Linked DNA regions of Homo sapiens: all the other regions are reported to be linked to region 1. The links are microRNA targets in miRTarBase. Many come from high-throughput screens and were not tested one by one. Region 1 holds a microRNA gene; each other region holds the end of a gene's coding sequence.
The links. The annotated mature microRNA hsa-miR-3613-5p reads UGUUGUACUUUUUUUUUUGUUC and lies in region 1 at 2,127-2,148, opposite strand. An mRNA with a match to its seed (bases 2 to 7 or 8) in the 3' UTR can be bound and repressed. Matches are read on the target gene's strand: a 7mer-m8 pairs with bases 2 to 8, a 7mer-A1 pairs with bases 2 to 7 and ends in A, and an 8mer does both.

Region 2: miRTarBase lists ANP32B as a target of hsa-miR-3613-5p. Seed matches in the 3' UTR shown: 8mer at 1,055-1,062.
Region 3: miRTarBase lists VEZF1 as a target of hsa-miR-3613-5p. Seed matches in the 3' UTR shown: 7mer-A1 at 1,902-1,908 and 7mer-m8 at 2,682-2,688.
Region 4: miRTarBase lists NHSL1 as a target of hsa-miR-3613-5p. Seed matches in the 3' UTR shown: 7mer-A1 at 2,392-2,398.

What each region holds. Positions count from the first base shown.
Region 1 is chr13:49,994,339-49,998,504 of GRCh38, forward strand. MIR3613 (microRNA 3613) reads right to left here and starts at 2,163; the gene lies at 2,077-2,163. It overlaps TRIM13 (tripartite motif containing 13), which reads left to right and starts at 2,704. Exons shown (of 2, transcript NM_213590.3): 1 at 2,704-3,425. It overlaps DLEU2 (deleted in lymphocytic leukemia 2), which reads right to left. Exons shown (of 14, transcript NR_152566.1): 11 at 2,736-3,081. RefSeq lists silencers at 1,671-1,720, 2,311-2,440 and an enhancer at 2,001-2,130.
Region 2 is chr9:98,014,719-98,018,884 of GRCh38, forward strand. ANP32B (acidic nuclear phosphoprotein 32 family member B) reads left to right here. Exons shown (of 7, transcript NM_006401.3): 7 at 646-1,225. The coding sequence ends at 713. Among named protein-coding and RNA genes, the nearest start is that of ANP32B, 33 kb to the left of the region's middle.
Region 3 is chr17:57,971,251-57,975,416 of GRCh38, reverse strand. It overlaps VEZF1 (vascular endothelial zinc finger 1), which reads left to right. Exons shown (of 6, transcript NM_007146.3): 6 at 517-3,865. The coding sequence ends at 944. Among named protein-coding and RNA genes, the nearest start is that of VEZF1, 15 kb to the left of the region's middle.
Region 4 is chr6:138,420,726-138,424,891 of GRCh38, forward strand. NHSL1 (NHS like 1) reads right to left here. Exons shown (of 8, transcript NM_001144060.2): 8 at 1,318-4,091. The coding sequence ends at 3,356. It overlaps HEBP2 (heme binding protein 2), which reads left to right. Exons shown (of 4, transcript NM_014320.3): 4 at 1-1,472. Among named protein-coding and RNA genes, the nearest start is that of MIR3145, 12 kb to the right of the region's middle.

The DNA of each region.
Region 1 (4,166 bases):
TTTTGTACATTTTAGGAAGACACGAGACATCAATCAGCGTGTGTAAGATGAACACTGGTTCAGTCCAGAAAAGGTGGGACGACTTGAAGCAAAGGTGGGACAACTCAAAACAGGGGGCGGGCTTCCAGGTTTTAGGGAGATAAGAGGCAAATCACTGCATTCTTTTGAGTTTCTGGTTACCCTTTCCAAAGGAGGCAATCAGATATTCATTTATCTCAGTGAGCAGAGGGATGACTTTGAATAGAATGGGAGGCAGGTTTGCCCTAAGCAGTTCTCCGAAGCTTGACTTTTTCCTTTAGCTTAGTGATTTTGGGGCCCCAAGATTTTCCTTTCACATGAGTTAATAACTGTCCAGTCTTGTGAAATATCATTTTAATATTAGGATATCTGAAATGTTTCCATATGGCTGGGTGTGGTGGCTCACGCCTGTAATCCCAGCACTTTGGGAGGCTGAGGCCTGAGGAACACTTGAGCCCAGGAGTTTGACACCAGCCTGGGCAACATAGTGAGACTCTATCTTTACAAAAAATAAAATTAGCCAGGCGTGGTGGCGCATGTCTGTGGTCCCAGCTACTTGGGAGGCTAAGGGAGGAGGATAACTTGGGCCCAGGGGCTTGAGGCTGTAGTGAGCCATGATCATGCTACTGCACTCCAGCCTGGGGGACAGAGATAGACCCTGTCTCAAAATCAATCAACACACAATGACAACAAATAAATGAGATGTTTCTACAGATCACTTTGTTTTTTTAGAAACACTAAATTAATTAATTAATTTAGTTATTGAGACGGAGTCTTGCTCTGTTGCCCAGGCTGGAGTGCAGTGGTAGGATCTCGGCTCACTGCAACCTCCATCTCCCGGGTTCAAGCTATTCTCCTGCCTCAGCCTCTCAAGTAGCTGGGACTACAGGCATACGGCACCATGACCGGCTAATTTTTGTATTTTTAGTAGAGACCAGGTTTCACCATGTTGGTCAGTCCGGTCTGGAACTCCTGACCTCAGGTGATCTGCCCGCCTCGACCTCCCAAAGTGCTGGGATTACAGGCGTGAGCCACCGTGCCTGGCCTAAAAACACTAAATTTAGTAAGGTACTGGGGTGCAGTTTTGTCACTGACAGTTATGGTGCTGTAGAAAGAGCCCATATCTGGAAGCTGCCTTTAGCCTCAGCTCTGCCTCTTGCTTTTGTACCTTGGAAAAGTCACTTCACCTGTTTTCTCATCTATATAGGATGAAGATCATAATTTCTTTTACACAGTGTTATGAGACTGAATGACAGAAATTAAAAGAAGTGTTCTACGAAGGCAAAGTTAGGTTTCTTATAGCAGGAAGGGAGATGCACACAGAGAAGTGGGAATCTCAGGAGACGGATGTGGCCAGGGGCTTTTTACGGGGGTTGGGCTAAGCATTATTAGTCAACGGGCTGTACTGCTATTTATGGTAGGTTTTGAATACCGTTTCTCCAAAATAACCTATTTCCTCCCCAAACCCAAACTTCCTCAACTGGGATCGAACTCAATCCTACAGCGTGTTCTGAGATTCTATACTCGCCTCACTTCTCCCAAGATCGTAAATTCTGGAGGAGCCATTCCTTCATCATCCATGTTTGCATCCTTCACACCGTTCACTGGTTAAGTGCTTAGTACGTTTGCTATTGGGCAAGGTCCTCAAACGGGAGGTGGACGTCAGAATAGTCAGGTTATCGACTGAGTAACTGTTAGTGGTGGATAATTTAAAGCCAATTTGAAAGTTCATCCTTTCCCCCAAAGGCAAAAACAGGCGTTCCTTTTCTTAAAAGAGAATTTTAAATAGAATTGGGTCTCTGGTGTCCTGCCTAAAGCCCGCAAAGAAAGAGGGTACGGTTGGGGGTGGGGGTGATGGGGGATACTGAACCCTTTTCTGGTTGCGCCTTGCCCGGAGCCCCCGGCTAGAGCCCTGGCGCTCCTGGCGCGCTCCCAACGCGAATCGGTGACTCCGCAGGCCGCGCAGTGCGGAGGTGCCCGTCCCACCCTCCCCCTTGTGGGGTGCGGGGCTCCATTTCCCCAAGCCGCTGGGGTCGGCTTCTGGTCTTGAGATGCGGATGAAGTGGTGTGAAGGGTTGGGCTTTTTTTTTTGTTCCTAAAAATGCAACGAACAAAAAAAAAAGTACAACAATCCAAACCCAACCATCTTAATTGCACGGCAGCTTAACTGGGAGACTTTCTTCCCGGGCGGCCCCACCCGGGACCGCGCCGCTTCAGTCGAGCCCACCGTCTGGGCAAACGGCGTCCACTTCCCGGAGCCGCTGCCCAGCCTCTGCGGGGGGGCTTTGGGCGGGCGCAGGACTCTGGAAGGGAGAAAAGCCCGCAGCCCGGCCCTCCCCGTCCCAGGCGGCCCGCGCGGGTGGACGGCGGGAGCAGGCGGCGGTTGGAGACGCCGGAAGGAACGCGGTCTCACCACCCGGCTCCCTCCGCCAAGGCGAGGCGCGGCCGGGGAGGCGGGACACAGGCGAAGCGGGACGGGGAGGCGGGGCCGGAGGTGCAGGCGGAGGCGGGCGACGGGGAAGGGAGGGGGAGGGGGAGGGGAAAGGGAGGGGGAGGGGGAGGGGAAAGGGAGGGGGAGGGGGGAAGGGACGGGAGGGGAGGGGGAAGGGACGGGAGGGGAGGGGGAAGGGACGGGAGGGGAAGGGGAAGCGGGAGAGGGAAGGGGGCGGAGCTAGCCGGAGCCGCGAGTCCATTTTGGGGCTGTGCTTGGCGCGTACCGTGCGGTCCCTGTAGTTGGAGGACGGGCGGTCGCGCGGCCTTTCCCACTAGCCGGAGGTCGGAGATAAGTACCCGCCGCCCGGCTCCTCTCGGGAAAGCGGGGTGGTCCTCGAACCTTCAGCGAGGGTGGGGAGTTGCCCAGGTCAGCAGGGATCTGCGTGGGTTGGGGGGGCTGGCGAAGGCCGTCTGAGCTCCAGTCCGGCAGCGCGGCAGAAACCAGCGGGGCACTGTCATGGGCCTGGGGAGGAGCGGCCTGCGGAGGGCGCCGGGGCAGTGTGTCTGTGGTCCAGAAAACCTGCTCCGTCCGGAGCCTTCCTGGCCCCGCTACCAGCGTCTCCACATCCCCTAGAAAAGAAAAGACGGGTGTGGGCCTTAGGTTACAGCGCGCCGCCAGCGTTTGGTTGCATGGCGCCGGGGGAGGGCGCCCTAACCGAGAAGCTGCTTAATACAAAGAGCTCCAGGCTCCTGGCGGTTCACCAGGTCTAAACAGCCGGGCTTTATTTGTGGGGGCGATTGAAAAAATTGAGGGTCAAGATTGGGGTGCTGTGCAAATAAATGCGTTAATACTGTTCTTTTTCTTCTTTCTTTGCAGTAGCCTCTAGTTCGTTAGTCAAAACGTGAAAAAAAAGACCTGCTTTGCCCTGGGAAATAGTAACCCTGCCAAATACATCAGCTTGTAGGAGACAGAGGTAAACTACAATAATTTTCCTGTGTTATCTTTTTTTTTTAAACACCCAATTTCAATAGGCCCTAGAACCTTCCAAAATGGAACTGTGTGTAGAATACGTATGTTCCCATCCACTTTCATTGGTGGTCTTTGTTCTTTGCATATTTTGTTAAAACTTAGAAAAACAGAATTCACGTTTAGCAATTATTTATGTGGTATTTATCTTAAATATAGCCAAACATTCATATTACAAAGGAAGAAAGGGGCTTCCACACTTTTTTCCTACTTTTTTTTCCCTTCTCCTATGCTTAGTGAATTGTCAGGCTGCTAGGGCTTGTAGAACAGGGCTTGAGTTTTCTAGAGACCTTTATATAATAGGCACTTTAAAAGCAGAATTTCATTTACATAGGCACTCCTTCTAGTAGAACTTGATGGAGCTGTTAACCGGCTATACTTCCTTCTTGCACAATGGGAGCGTCCCTATCCCTCCCTAAAAATACGTTTTTTTTCCTTTCTCCCAGCTGGCTTACTAAACCTCCCTGGGAAGTCCTTTCCTAAAACCGGGCTGTTCTGTTCATTCTATACATTTATGATAGGTTATCTGGCCTTAATTCTGTCACAGCTTTTGTTCAGATATGCTCATTTTCATGACACTGCTTTGTACCTGATACCTTATGTAATATTTGTTTTGCCTTGCCTTGAAATCACAGTTCAAGTTTAGAACCTTTTCTTGCTTGATACACTGATGCTCCAAAATAACACC
Region 2 (4,166 bases), not on the chromosome of region 1:
GCATGTCTTGAAGACGTGCTAGATAGCACGAGGGGTTTTGTTTTGTTTTTTTGGAGACAGTTTCGCTCTTATCACCCAGGCTGGAGTCCAGTGGCACAATCTCAGCTCACTGCAACCTCCGCCTTCCGGATTCAAGCAATTCTCATGCCTCATCATCCAGAGTAGCTGGGATTACAGGTACATGCCACCATGCCTGGCTCATTTTTGTATTTTTAGTAGAGACGGAGTTTCACCATGTTGGCCAGGGTGGTCTGGAACTCCTGACCTCAGGTGATCTGCCTGCCTTGGCCTCCCAAAGTGCTGGGATTATAGGCATGAGCCAGTGGGCCTGACCAGCTCAGGTTAATAATAAGCACTTTAATAATTGCTAGATTTGTAAAAAGAAACATTTGGAAGACAACACCTTAAAATCGAGGAAACTGGATTAACTTTTCCTGGGTGAGTTGAGGTGCTGCTGTGCATTTTGCTTTTCTTGGTTCTGTGGTCACCACTTATACTTGCTATTAGTCACCTATATTAATCTGATCAAGTTTACATTGTTTTATCTCCTAACTGTCAAAAACTTTGTTGTTGTTGCCTCCATTGGCAATAATCTAAGCAAAATGCCTTTCCACTGTCCTAAAGTCAATTTTTGTTACTGTACAGAGGAGGAAGAAGGTGGGAAAGGTGAAAAGAGGAAGAGAGAAACAGATGATGAAGGAGAAGATGATTAAGACCCCAGATGACCTGCAGAAACAGAACTGTTCAGTATTGGTTGGACTGCTCATGGATTTTGTAGCTGTTTAAAAAAAAAAAAAAGGTAGCTGTGATACAAACCCCAGGACACCCACCCACCCAAAGAGCCAAAGAATAGTTCCTGTGACATTCCGCCTTCCTTCCATGTAGTCCCTCTTGGTAATCTACCACCAAGCTTGTGGACTTCACCCCAACAAAATTGTAAGCGTTGTTAGGTTTTTGTGTAAGATTCTTGCTGTAGCGTGGATAGCTGTGATTGGTGAGTCAACCGTCTGTGGCTACCAGTTACACTGAGATTGTAACAGCATTTTTACTTTCTGTACAACAAAAAAGCTTTGTAAATAAAATCTTAACATTTTGGGTCTGTTTTTTCATGCTTTGCTTTTTAATTATTATTATTATTTTTTTTACATTAGGACATTTTATGTGACAACTGCCAAAAAAGTATTTTTAAGAATTTAAGCGAAATAAACAGTTACTCTTTGGTAAAGCCTAGTTGTATGCTTACATTTTTAAATTATACTCTCATTGTAAGCTCATGTTAAAACACCAAAGAACTGGTTTATTTGGCATTTTTATATTAGTAGTTGTTGAGGGGAATTGCACAAGTGTGTAGGATCTTTGAGCATTTAGATCAAATCCTCATTGATAACTGGGAGTAAATGAAGCATACTTTAAAAAATAACGTTCAAAATGGAATACTCTGGGGCCCTGAAAACCAGTAAAATGTTAGGTTCAAGTATTATGTGAATTAAGGGAAAGAAGATAGTGTAAAGCAAAAGGCCTTCACCAGAATCCCAAGAGATCTGAATTCTAGTTCTGGCTCTGCCACTGATTTTCTGTGTGACCTTGTGTTGACTCTGGGTCACCACCCAGTCTGGAAAATTGAAGGGGTGTGACCAAATGGCTTCTGAAGTCACTTGTAGCACTGATGTTCTGTGACCCTTGCTGACAGGAAGGTCTGAAGAGAAAAATGGGCTTTCCACTAGTCTGAAGCATGTAGGGTTTGACTGATGGGTGAACACAGTATGGTTTGTTGCCAAGACAGGCGTGAAAAGGGGGAATGACATGTGAAAAGCCTCACCAAGCAGTGGGTAGGCACTGCCTGAGGTCAACTCAGGTTTTCCATAAGATGGAAATTTTCTCTATTCTTACAGATCTTAAAGGGATTTGAGAAAGGAGGATATTCTGTCTGTATTCAGTGATTAACCGTTTAGCGAAAATAGATGTATGACTGCATTATCAATACAGTTTTTTATAGTGGAAGATTTAAGGATTGTTTCAGTAAATTTTAGCTTATAGCTGCTGGAATGAGTGAGGTTTTTGATGCATGTAAATGCAATATGTAAAATTGGAATCTAATTTGAATTTATAACAAGTCACAGTCTCTATGGAGCCCCCAAATACTGTACTTTAAAATCAAAATCTCCCATAGACTTTAAAATGGAGTTTCTTTTTTGCAAAGAAAATCCAAGAAAATTTGATTTCTGATTTTACAGGTATTACACATCATTTTCCCCAACCATAAGGCCATTTTGGCAAACCTTCAATACATTGTAAAATGGTTTCTTCTGTAGCCTAAGTGTGTCCTTAAGGTTTTGCTTATTTGTCAAATATCAAACACAGTAACTTTGAGTGATTATTTTTCCCGGTTTGTTGTTGTTGTTGTTGTTTTTAGTTGTTTTTTAAAGTTTACAGAACTTCCCAGTATCTACCAAGCCTGTAGGATATGCCAGGCTTATTGGCTGGGCAAAAGGGAAGGGAATTGGGTTAAAAAGACAAGCCAGCCCTTGGTGCTCATAGTAACTAGTCAGGAAGAAAAGACATCAACACAAGTAATATTTACTAGGACCTAGGAGCAAGAGGTTTAGGTAAGTTTTAGTGTAGCTCAGAGGCTGGAGAGATGGCACCCAACCTGGAGGGAGGGAAGCTTCTTAGAAAAGAAAGTACTTCAGCTGCACATGCAAGTGTGAATAGCGTCTATAAATAGGAATAGAGAGAGAAGGGAGTATCTTGGTGAGCAGAGGTTAAAGGTAGGAAACTGCTGAGTACAGTTAGATACAAGTAGATTTGACAACACATGAATAGATGATAATACTGGACAAGTCATTTGGGCTCTTGTAGGGGGCCTTGAAGGTCAAAGCCTTTTTGTGCATTATAGTAAAATATTGATGTCACCTGTATGTGGCCAGTGAAGATGCCTTTGACATGGTCCTCAGAGAAGCAAGCTGTTTGGTGATGAGGTCACACAGCAGACTATTTTTGGAGTTGTCTCCCATCTGAAGGAGAACATTGAGAGGGTTTGCTTCCAGCTTCTGCAGTAAGTTTAGTTATAAAATGTCTGAGCTGGGTGGCAGCTATGATGGGCTAGATGACTGGTCCTGACTAGCTGCTCCGAGGTTGGTGGAGGTGTGTTCTACATACACACCTACATGTGTGATACATTGGTATGCCATCTTTTTGAAGCTATTTTCTTTTTTCTTTTTTTTTTTTTTTTGAGATGGGAGTCTTCGCTGTCGCCCAGGCTGACATGTAGTGGCACAATCTTGGCTCACTGCAACCTCCGCCTCCTGGGTTCAAGCAATTCTCCTGTCTCAGCCTCCCGAGTAGCTGGGACTACAGGCGCCCGCCACCACGCCTGGCTAATTTTTGTATTTTTAGTAGAGACGAGGTTTCAACATACTGGTCAGGCTGGTCTTGAACTCTCCTGACCTCAGGTGATCCACCCACCTTGGCCTCCCAAAGTGCCAGAATTACAGGTGTGAGCCACTGTGCCCGGTCCATGGCGCCCTGTTTTCAACCTCTGCTCTTACCTTTAGTTCACTCCTCTTTCAGGAGTCCAGCACCTGAAGAATGATAGTGGCCAGCGTGGAAATGCACAAACCACCTTGTGTAAGATACTGCACCCTACCCGCTCCTGTATCACCACCACCAGGACTCCTGGTACATACTCCAGGACAGATACAGGAGAGTTGAGTCGTCCTGTTCCTGGCATTCCTATCTGGGCTACACTACCTACCCCATCGCCAGAGAAAGGTGAGACAGAAGCACAAAGTGGTTGTACACTATGCTATGACCTTCCAGTTTTCTCCAGCTCTGTTGCATTGTGCTGCCATCAATTTTAATGAGCCTGATGATACCGCCGTGTTGACAGTTTGGAAAGGGAATCAAGTTACTAGTAGACTTAAGCTGCAGCCAGCCAAACAGTTGCTCTGCAGGAAAATCACCAAGATTGCAGTGAGTGTGGAAGTCCTCAGAGCCAATTAGGTCAGCTTAATAATCTCTGATCAAGTGGGTATTTTATAACTTGTCCCAGGGGTGTTGGGAGGGCATATGGAGAAAATACCCTTATTCTATTGCTTTTTGTTGTTGGAGACGGTCTGACTCTGTCACCCAAGCTGGAATACACTGGCACAATCATGGTTCACTGC
Region 3 (4,166 bases), not on the chromosome of region 1:
ATGCACACCTCTCTCTGCTAGTTACAGTGTGCCTTACGAGAAGATTTTTCTGATTATCTGTTATTGTGTAACCATTGGCCCAGCTCTGTGTAAACAAGCTCTTTAGCCTGGCCTGCTGGAGGTTGGCTCTTCCCAAGAAAGTTTTTAGAACTCAGAGGAACTGCATGAAGTAGTAGTGAGAACACTTAGCCCTGCATTGCAGAAGTTAACTGATCCTCTCAGCATCACTGTGAGGTAGGTAAGTAAATCTGAACTTGAAACCTAAAGTGCAAGGCTAAACAAGTTGCTTAAGTCCTTGCAGGAGGTATAGCATCAGAAGGTGATTCATACACTGGGATCCCTGGCCCCCAGGCTTGTGCTCAGAAAGATCCTCTGTTCTGTTGACCGCTTGATAGAAAACTGGAATTTGATTTATTAAATGTTTGACATTTTTAATGAAAAGAAATTGATTCAGAAACTTTGTGAATTTTGCTCACTGTTTTGAGAATCTAAAGACCCTTTTTCTTCTTATTTTAGAAGCTGCTAACCTGTGCCAAACCTCCACGGCTGCTACGACACCTGTGACTCTCACTACTCCATTCAGTATAACATCCTCTGTGTCGTCTGGGACTATGTCAAACCCAGTCACAGTGGCAGCTGCAATGAGCATGAGAAGTCCAGTAAATGTTTCAAGTGCAGTTAACATAACCAGCCCAATGAACATAGGGCATCCTGTAACTATAACCAGTCCATTATCCATGACCTCTCCTTTAACACTCACTACCCCAGTCAACCTCCCCACCCCCGTCACTGCCCCAGTGAATATAGCACACCCTGTCACCATCACATCTCCAATGAATCTACCCACACCTATGACATTAGCCGCCCCTCTCAATATAGCAATGAGACCTGTAGAGAGCATGCCTTTCTTGCCCCAAGCTTTGCCTACATCACCGCCTTGGTAAACAGTATTATAAAATCAAAATATGGGTAAAAGTAAATATTTACCAGCAACTTAACTTTTAGTTGATTAAAGCAAAAAGTAAACCATGAAATTGGGAGATTTTATTACATTAGTTAATAAGAGTGTGGTAGCATTTTTCTCCAATTTGGCTGGGATTATTCAAAGTAGGGTGTGTATGTAACTTATCACTGGACCACTTTAGTTTAATCAGAAATTCCTTTTAGCTGACAACATTGCTTAAACAGGATAGTAGTTGGCAAGATGAAATGCCAGAATTAAAACCAATCATAAGTAGAACCCACTTCAAAATAAAAAAACAGCATTACTATTTCTAATCCCAAGGAATCACTTTATTGTAAACACTAGCAGAACTCTTCTCCCTATACAAGGTGGATGGCTGATTTTAACCTGAAATTTTAAATCCACAGATTGAGAGCTAGTGTAGAATTGTCTGTGTTTATTGTTTTTATGAGTAAATACATGCATTGTCATAATAAAATGCATTTCAGAGAATATGCATTTTACCTTTGGGAATATGTTAATTTCAGGCAGCATTCCCTATGGGAAAGGTGATACCAGCTCTGATATGCAAAGCATATGATAATTTATCATTCTAACTTCAACGTATAATAGGGATTGTGACCTGATATTTGGAGATGTAAATATTGCTCAGCATATTAATCCCGATGGAATATAGCATTGTAGTTGACTTTTTAAAAAAAAAAAAAATTTAAAAAAAATCTACAAATTGTGTTTTGCTAAGAAAAGCCTCAACTGACAGAGGAGAAGTCAAGTGTGTGGACAGGCAAGCTCCTAATAAACAGAGTCCAGTGGGATTCCTATTTAGGAGCCAAGGAGTACTTTGGAACAGTACAAATATATTGCTTTAAATTGGAAGACGCTGGAGGCACTGGGATGTGATATGCCCCTCTCTCTCCCAATCAGAGCCTGTTGATATTACAACAGGGACAGATGTGTTAGTTGCTCACTAGAGTTTATGTCTTATATTAAATTGTATACAGTTTTTATTCTAACCACTAACTAGGTAGTGTATGCCCCTTCAGAACATGCAGAGTGTATCTTTTTTTAAATTTCTCCTTCCGTTTCTTAAGTATTGCGCAGATTTGTTCAACTTTGTAAATATGGACATCACTTTTTTTTTCTTTGAGAAAACACTTGTATCAGCTTTGTGGTGTTTTCAGGGAGACAGCTGTCTGCATTCCCTGTAGAAACCCAGCAATGATTATGCACGTTGAGACATGTGCTTTTTATTTCTTAGCAAGATATTTTATCTCTGTACATAAAGTAGAAACCAAAAGCTAGGGAAACAGATACTCTTTACACCATCATGCCACGCATTGTTTTTAAAGCATTGCGTTAAAAAAAAAATTAACTAAACCAAGATGCTGTGATTTTTTAAGTTGCAATATGTTTTTGGTTTTTTTCATTTTTTAATCATTGCAGTTAAGAGAAATGGAAATTAGTTGTGTTAATCTTGCAGAATGTTTGCAGGACTGACTATCAAACTGGATGATTTCCATTTATACCCTACTGTGTCAGTTCAAGCATCAAAATACCTTGCATCTGAGACAGACTTCCTACATCAGGGACAGGTATCTGTGTGTCATTATACAAAACAGTTCTAGGGGGTTGAACTACATAGTAAAAAAATAAAATAAATAGTACTTAGTGTAAAATAATTTTATAAATGATCTTTTGTACTTTAGGACATTAAATTGTACAACTTTTGTATATATAAAAGCTTAGGAACTTTCTGTTTAGCAGGAAGGCAACACATTCCTACACTTTTAATGTATATGTTTGTTATAATGTCCATGTAAACATGCCCTATGTTTGTGCCTTTTAATTAGTTTGTCTCAATAAACAAAATGTAGAGAAAAATATGTAGCTATGACTTTGTTACAACTGTTCTTATCCACAGTACAAAAATGGTTTGTTTTTAATATGTAGAGCATTATGTGTGGACTACTGGAAGGACTCGTGTAGGGAAAGCCCAAGAATGACCTTGCTGAGGCCTGGATTGGGAGGCACAGTGGCCACATTTGGAGGAAGTTCACATTTCCTGGCATGCAGACCCAAAACTGGGTTCTGGCTCTGCCTGCTGGGATCTGTTATCTCTGGTGGGCTGGCAGTCATAATTCACAATTCAGACAGCCCAGGCTTCCTCCACAGTGGTCCAAGGAGCAGTCCTCAGTGGGGGCAGGTGTGGGCCCTACCCCTAAGCTAGAATGTGGTTGTCAGAACCCTGAAAGTATTAGTTCTAAAAAAAAAAAGATATATACTAGAAGTAATTGTTTTATCAATTCATTGTATAATAAACAGGAGTGAGACTTCATTGTATGACTTCAGTTAAAATACTATTTTGTATGCATTCTTTATTCACTTAAGAAGCTTGTCTGCAATAATAAAGCCACGTCATGTCTTCTTTTGGGAGGGAGAGAGTCGATGGCAGGAGGGGGTTTTGGGTGGGCCACTGAAAAGGGGTACCGAATAGGTTGTGTGATGAAATTCTGTGTCTTGGAACTGGAATTGAGTTTCGATGTTGATGAACTGATTCAACCAGGTGTTGAAGGCACGACAGCCACTGCTCTACGAAAAGGCAGAGTACGTTTTTCCCTTCTGGTTGTAACCTGGTTGAGAGCTTCCCCTTTATCAGATTGGCAGCTAAACAGTTGTATTAGATAATCCTTAAATCTGACATCCAGCCTGTTACGCTCTAGGGCTCGCTGCTTGGCCTGCGTTTGCTTTTTATTGTGTATCCGTTCCCCTCCTACGGTGTGCTCCTGAATGAAGGTTTCTATGTAAGCAGATGATGATTTTACCTGTCAATACCAGCACTGTATTACTAACATGCAAAATACTGCAGATTTATTTTGAAAATTAAAGTTAACTGGTCACAAATGTTATGATGGATTGTTTAATACCTCAGAAGCTTCATCAGTTTGCTCTGATAATAGAGGAATTTTTCAAGTACTTTCTTTTCAGGTGCGCACATCTCAGTATTGGGTTGGAGAGAGAGGGAGGGACCAGTATCAGGCTGGTTGGAGGGTGGAAGGGCACCAGACTGACTGCCCTTGGTAGGTGCACCCTCCCAAGCAGCTCAGGTAAGGCCCAGGAAGCTAGGATGGAGGCAGTGGCCACAGGTTTAGGTCCCTGTCCTACCCAAAAGAGAAGATGGGTTTAAAACATTTCTTCTCATGCT
Region 4 (4,166 bases), not on the chromosome of region 1:
CTTTTTCCCAGAGTTCCCCTGGGATGGCAGCTCGCCTGCTCTCCCTGCCTCGTCCTGCTTCCTCTTTTCCTTTCAAAGGTGCTTACTCCAATAATAAATCCTTTGGTATTCTAACTGTCTACTTCTTGAAGAATCTAAACTGGCAGTAGGATCATGCCCCTCACTGATAGCTCAACCACGTTTTCTATCTTTGGGCCTCCTTGTCTTTACCTAGCACATGAGAAGCATTTATTAGGACTTTTTTTCCCCCATTGCTGAACAAATGACTACAGATTGCTCTACCTCTTGTTCTGTGAATAAAGGCTGGCCGCTGTGGAAGGTAGGTCAGAGCAGGCAACTGAGAGAAACTGTATTACAGTTACCGAGTGGCTTATTAAGGAAAGTGGCGCAACAATCAGGTCCATGTTTCATTCAAATGACCCTCCATTCCCCCAACAACATCCTCACATCTGCCAAAGCAAATTATGCTGCTGTGCTCATTTGATGATGGAATCAGCATCGCATGCAGGCTGAACCCCTACTACGGCAGAACCAAGAAAGCCACTCTTTCCCCTCTCCTCCTAAGATGCCACCACAGAGCAGGGTGCCAGTGGTGGGTGGGGAGAAAGACGGAGACACAGAAACGTCTCCTTTTCACTGTGATTCTCCTAAGGAATATACAGTCACCCCCACAGGAAAAGCAAGAGTTCAATCAAGATTCTTCAGAAATAGTAGGATGGCAGAAAGCAGATCGCATTGAGGTTGTTTCCAACTGACAGACCAAGCAGTAATTTGTTTCTCTCCCCACTGATAGTAAAAATAAAGTGGAAATAATTTAGGGCTGGGGCTTCTGTGATTATCTGGAACTTAAAGTATGAGGGTATGAGAGCCATCAGATCTACCCCTGTGGAGCTTTTTAAGATGCGGTCCATAACAGAAGCGGGCCCCAAGGAGTAGAGTAGCCACATGGAAGGTGCCATGTTTCAGGGATGAGTCTCGATTCTTCTCTCCCTGTATTTCATCCATGCCTGTAAGAAGTTCTCACGTCTCTCCACATGCCACGTCATCTGAACCGCCAGGCGATAGGTTATTCGTATTTTATTCCAAAGTCCATAGGACACGATGTGGACTTGTTTTTCCACGTGCCCTTGTAGATGGTGCCATCCAGTGTCTGTGATGTTCCACCTCCTCTGTTGGGTTGTCACCTCCCCCAGAGACCTTCTGGTCTCACTGCTTTTCTGTTTGTATCCAGCAAAACACTCAACAATTCTGTATAAGAACACCTATCTCATTATTCAAAAAAAATGCATGTATAAACAAAAAGAAATATTTCAAATATTTACTTTACAATTGTTTTATTCAAAGGAAATTAAATACAAATGTATATTTTTCATTAAAAATGGGGATTTAAAAATAGTTTTATAATTAGTGTTATGTTGCTTTATCTTATCTTTGCATAAATTATGTATTATTAAAGGTTTCTGATATCCATATACATTCTAGTCTTTTTTAGGCAGCTATGAGAAGATTTCATATTCAAAAGCCAATGCCACTTTTCTAAAGAAACGATCTTTGTGCCAAATTAGTAGACAATTGCTCCAAATCTCTGGTCTTGACTTCCGGTTGTGTGAAGAGCAGTGTTTTGTTTTTTTCAGAGAAGGGAAAGAGCCTTCATTCTTTAGGTTTGTTTTTGCCTCAAAGACATTTCTATATGGGTATCTAAAGTTTTAGTTTATAAGTCTCATAATGATTTGACCCATGCAGTCCAACTTTTAGATAGTATTTCCATACCCCCCAAAAGCTGGCAGGTGGTAGTCGCACTAGATTCAGACCAAGACTCTCCGCATTGTCATCCTAGGTCCTTCTAATGAAGAAGACAATACTCTAGTTTATTTAACAAATAAAGGAGTCTAAGTACATGGAAGTTAAGGGAGTAAGGGTGGGGGTAATGAGATTATTACATTAAAATAAAGACTTCACACACGTGTGTCCCATGTCTAAAATTGTTGAAAATCTGATTGGAGAAGATTAGAAGTAATTAGCAACTCAATTATTTATAAACAAATATAAAAATGCACAAACCAAATGATGCAAAAAAACCTTTTTAATCTAAAAATTCATTTCCCAGGGCTAATTGATAGCCAGGCCCTACCAATTTTTATCAGTTTATTTGACTAACAAGAGCTATTCAGCATTTTCTTCAAAGTAAGATAATATATAATAGATTTTGATAAATCTTTCTGAATTAGGACATGATACTGTAGGCAGTTCAAGGAAAAAAAAATAGCCATAACTTTTTCTTTGGTGTAACCAAAAGGATATCCAAAAGTTAGCAAATGTTGACATTTCAAGTGACAGGAAATTGCCTAATGGAAGTTTAAACTCTGGTTAAAAAAAAAAAAAAAAAAAAACTGTTGTAAAAGGAAAAGCTCCACCCATAGTTCTGTAGTGCAAGTTTTCAAATTTAATTCTGAAAAATAATTTTATTTCATAGGCAGGAAACAAATTCCAGCAGTGTATCACTTACTCCTTTCCAACCCTTCCCCTCTCTCTATGTCCACACCATCACTTCAGTTGTCAATGACCTCAGCTGCTACTCAAGGAGGAAATTCATTAAAAAATTACCCACACTTCTAAAAATCAGGCTACAATTGTGTGTATGTGGCTGCACAGCAGCAGGCACCAGGTTACAGCATTGCCACTTCTACGTTTGTCATTTTTACAAAAAAGAAGCAAAGTCTACCTCCCCCAGAAAAAAGTACCTGAACCAATTAGTCACTTAGCCCCTTCCCAGCCTCTCCGTGCTCACCAGACCTGCCTCACCTCAGCAGCACACGTGTGCATATATCTGTGTGTTCTGTGCATTAAGAACCAGCAACTCTACTGCCTCTTTCTTGAAGTAACATCTTCTCCTTTCTTACAAAACTCGCTGATTTCTATAAACGTAATTCTCTGAAAGCAATTACCGCCTAGACCAGAGGACTCCGTTACTCTACCAAGCTTAAGTCTGGCTTGCTTTCTTCTATTTCTGTACATGTTGTTTGTGTATATGTGTATTTTTTAAAAATTAAAAAGTGTGGAAAATGCACACATACACACCCAGCATTTAGCAAAAAAAAAAAAAAAAAAAAAAAATCTTCCCCGGGAAGCACTTTCAGAAGTTTAAGCTTCTACTTGTTCTTAAGCCACAGGGCAAGTGCCAGGTGAGTCCTAAATAACCGTTCACTCACACTGCAGGGCTGGCAACCCCGGGGCCCACAGCACAGAAGCAGAGTGGGCTCCCCGGGTGAGCCAGGGAAGGGCGCCTAGCAGGCTTCCTAGAGTGCTGCATTGCTCGTCTCCCCCCGTGTCACCTGGGAGAGTTACGTTCTTGGCCCTAACTCTCCTCGCTCAGAGAACCGCCACACTGTGGGGAGGGCTCTCTGCCCTCTGCACTGGCTGTCCCATCCACAGGGCCGGGGGCCTGGGGCTGCAGGGAGGCGGCAGGCCCCTCCCCACAGAGCAGGCCGCCCTCGTCCATCTCCTCCCTCGCCAGTCCGTCCAGGGAACATCCCTCCGCAGCGCCCAGAGCCCCGCGGGCTATGCTGTCCACAGGCTCCACGGCTTCCCCTTCTCCCTCCGAGATGACGGTCATGGGGCTGCTCTGGATCCGGTTCCGCATGCTGTACCTGCTGCTGGCGGCAGAAGGCGGCGTTCGGCTGCGGCCGTACCTGGGGCCGGAAAAGGACAGACTCCGAGGCATCAAGCCTTCGTTCTTGGCCCACTCCTCCTGCGCCCTTCTGTTCTTGCTTGGGGAGCAGCTTGACGGGCTCTCGGGGGCATCTGGGGAAGGCTCTGACCTCGACCTCTGGAATCTAGGGTCTGTGTTCTTGAGCATCTCTGCTGCAGACATGCGGGCGCTGGTGTCTGAACGACTGCCCTTTTTCAGCAGCAGAGCTTTGAAGTTGTCACTGCTGGTGCTGCTCTTTCGGATGCTTCTCTGAATCGACCCCACTTGCTTTGGAGAGGCCAGGCTTGGGGCAGCGCCGGTGGGTGTCACGGGCGGGGAGGGAGAATGGTTTCGGGAGTGGTCATCATCTGAATCTCTACGGCCGAGGACTTTCCTTTTGGATCTGAGATTTAATAACATTAAGAAAAAGGTTAATTCCCACGGGACCACAGGCTGTCAGCCACAACCACTCTGCTCT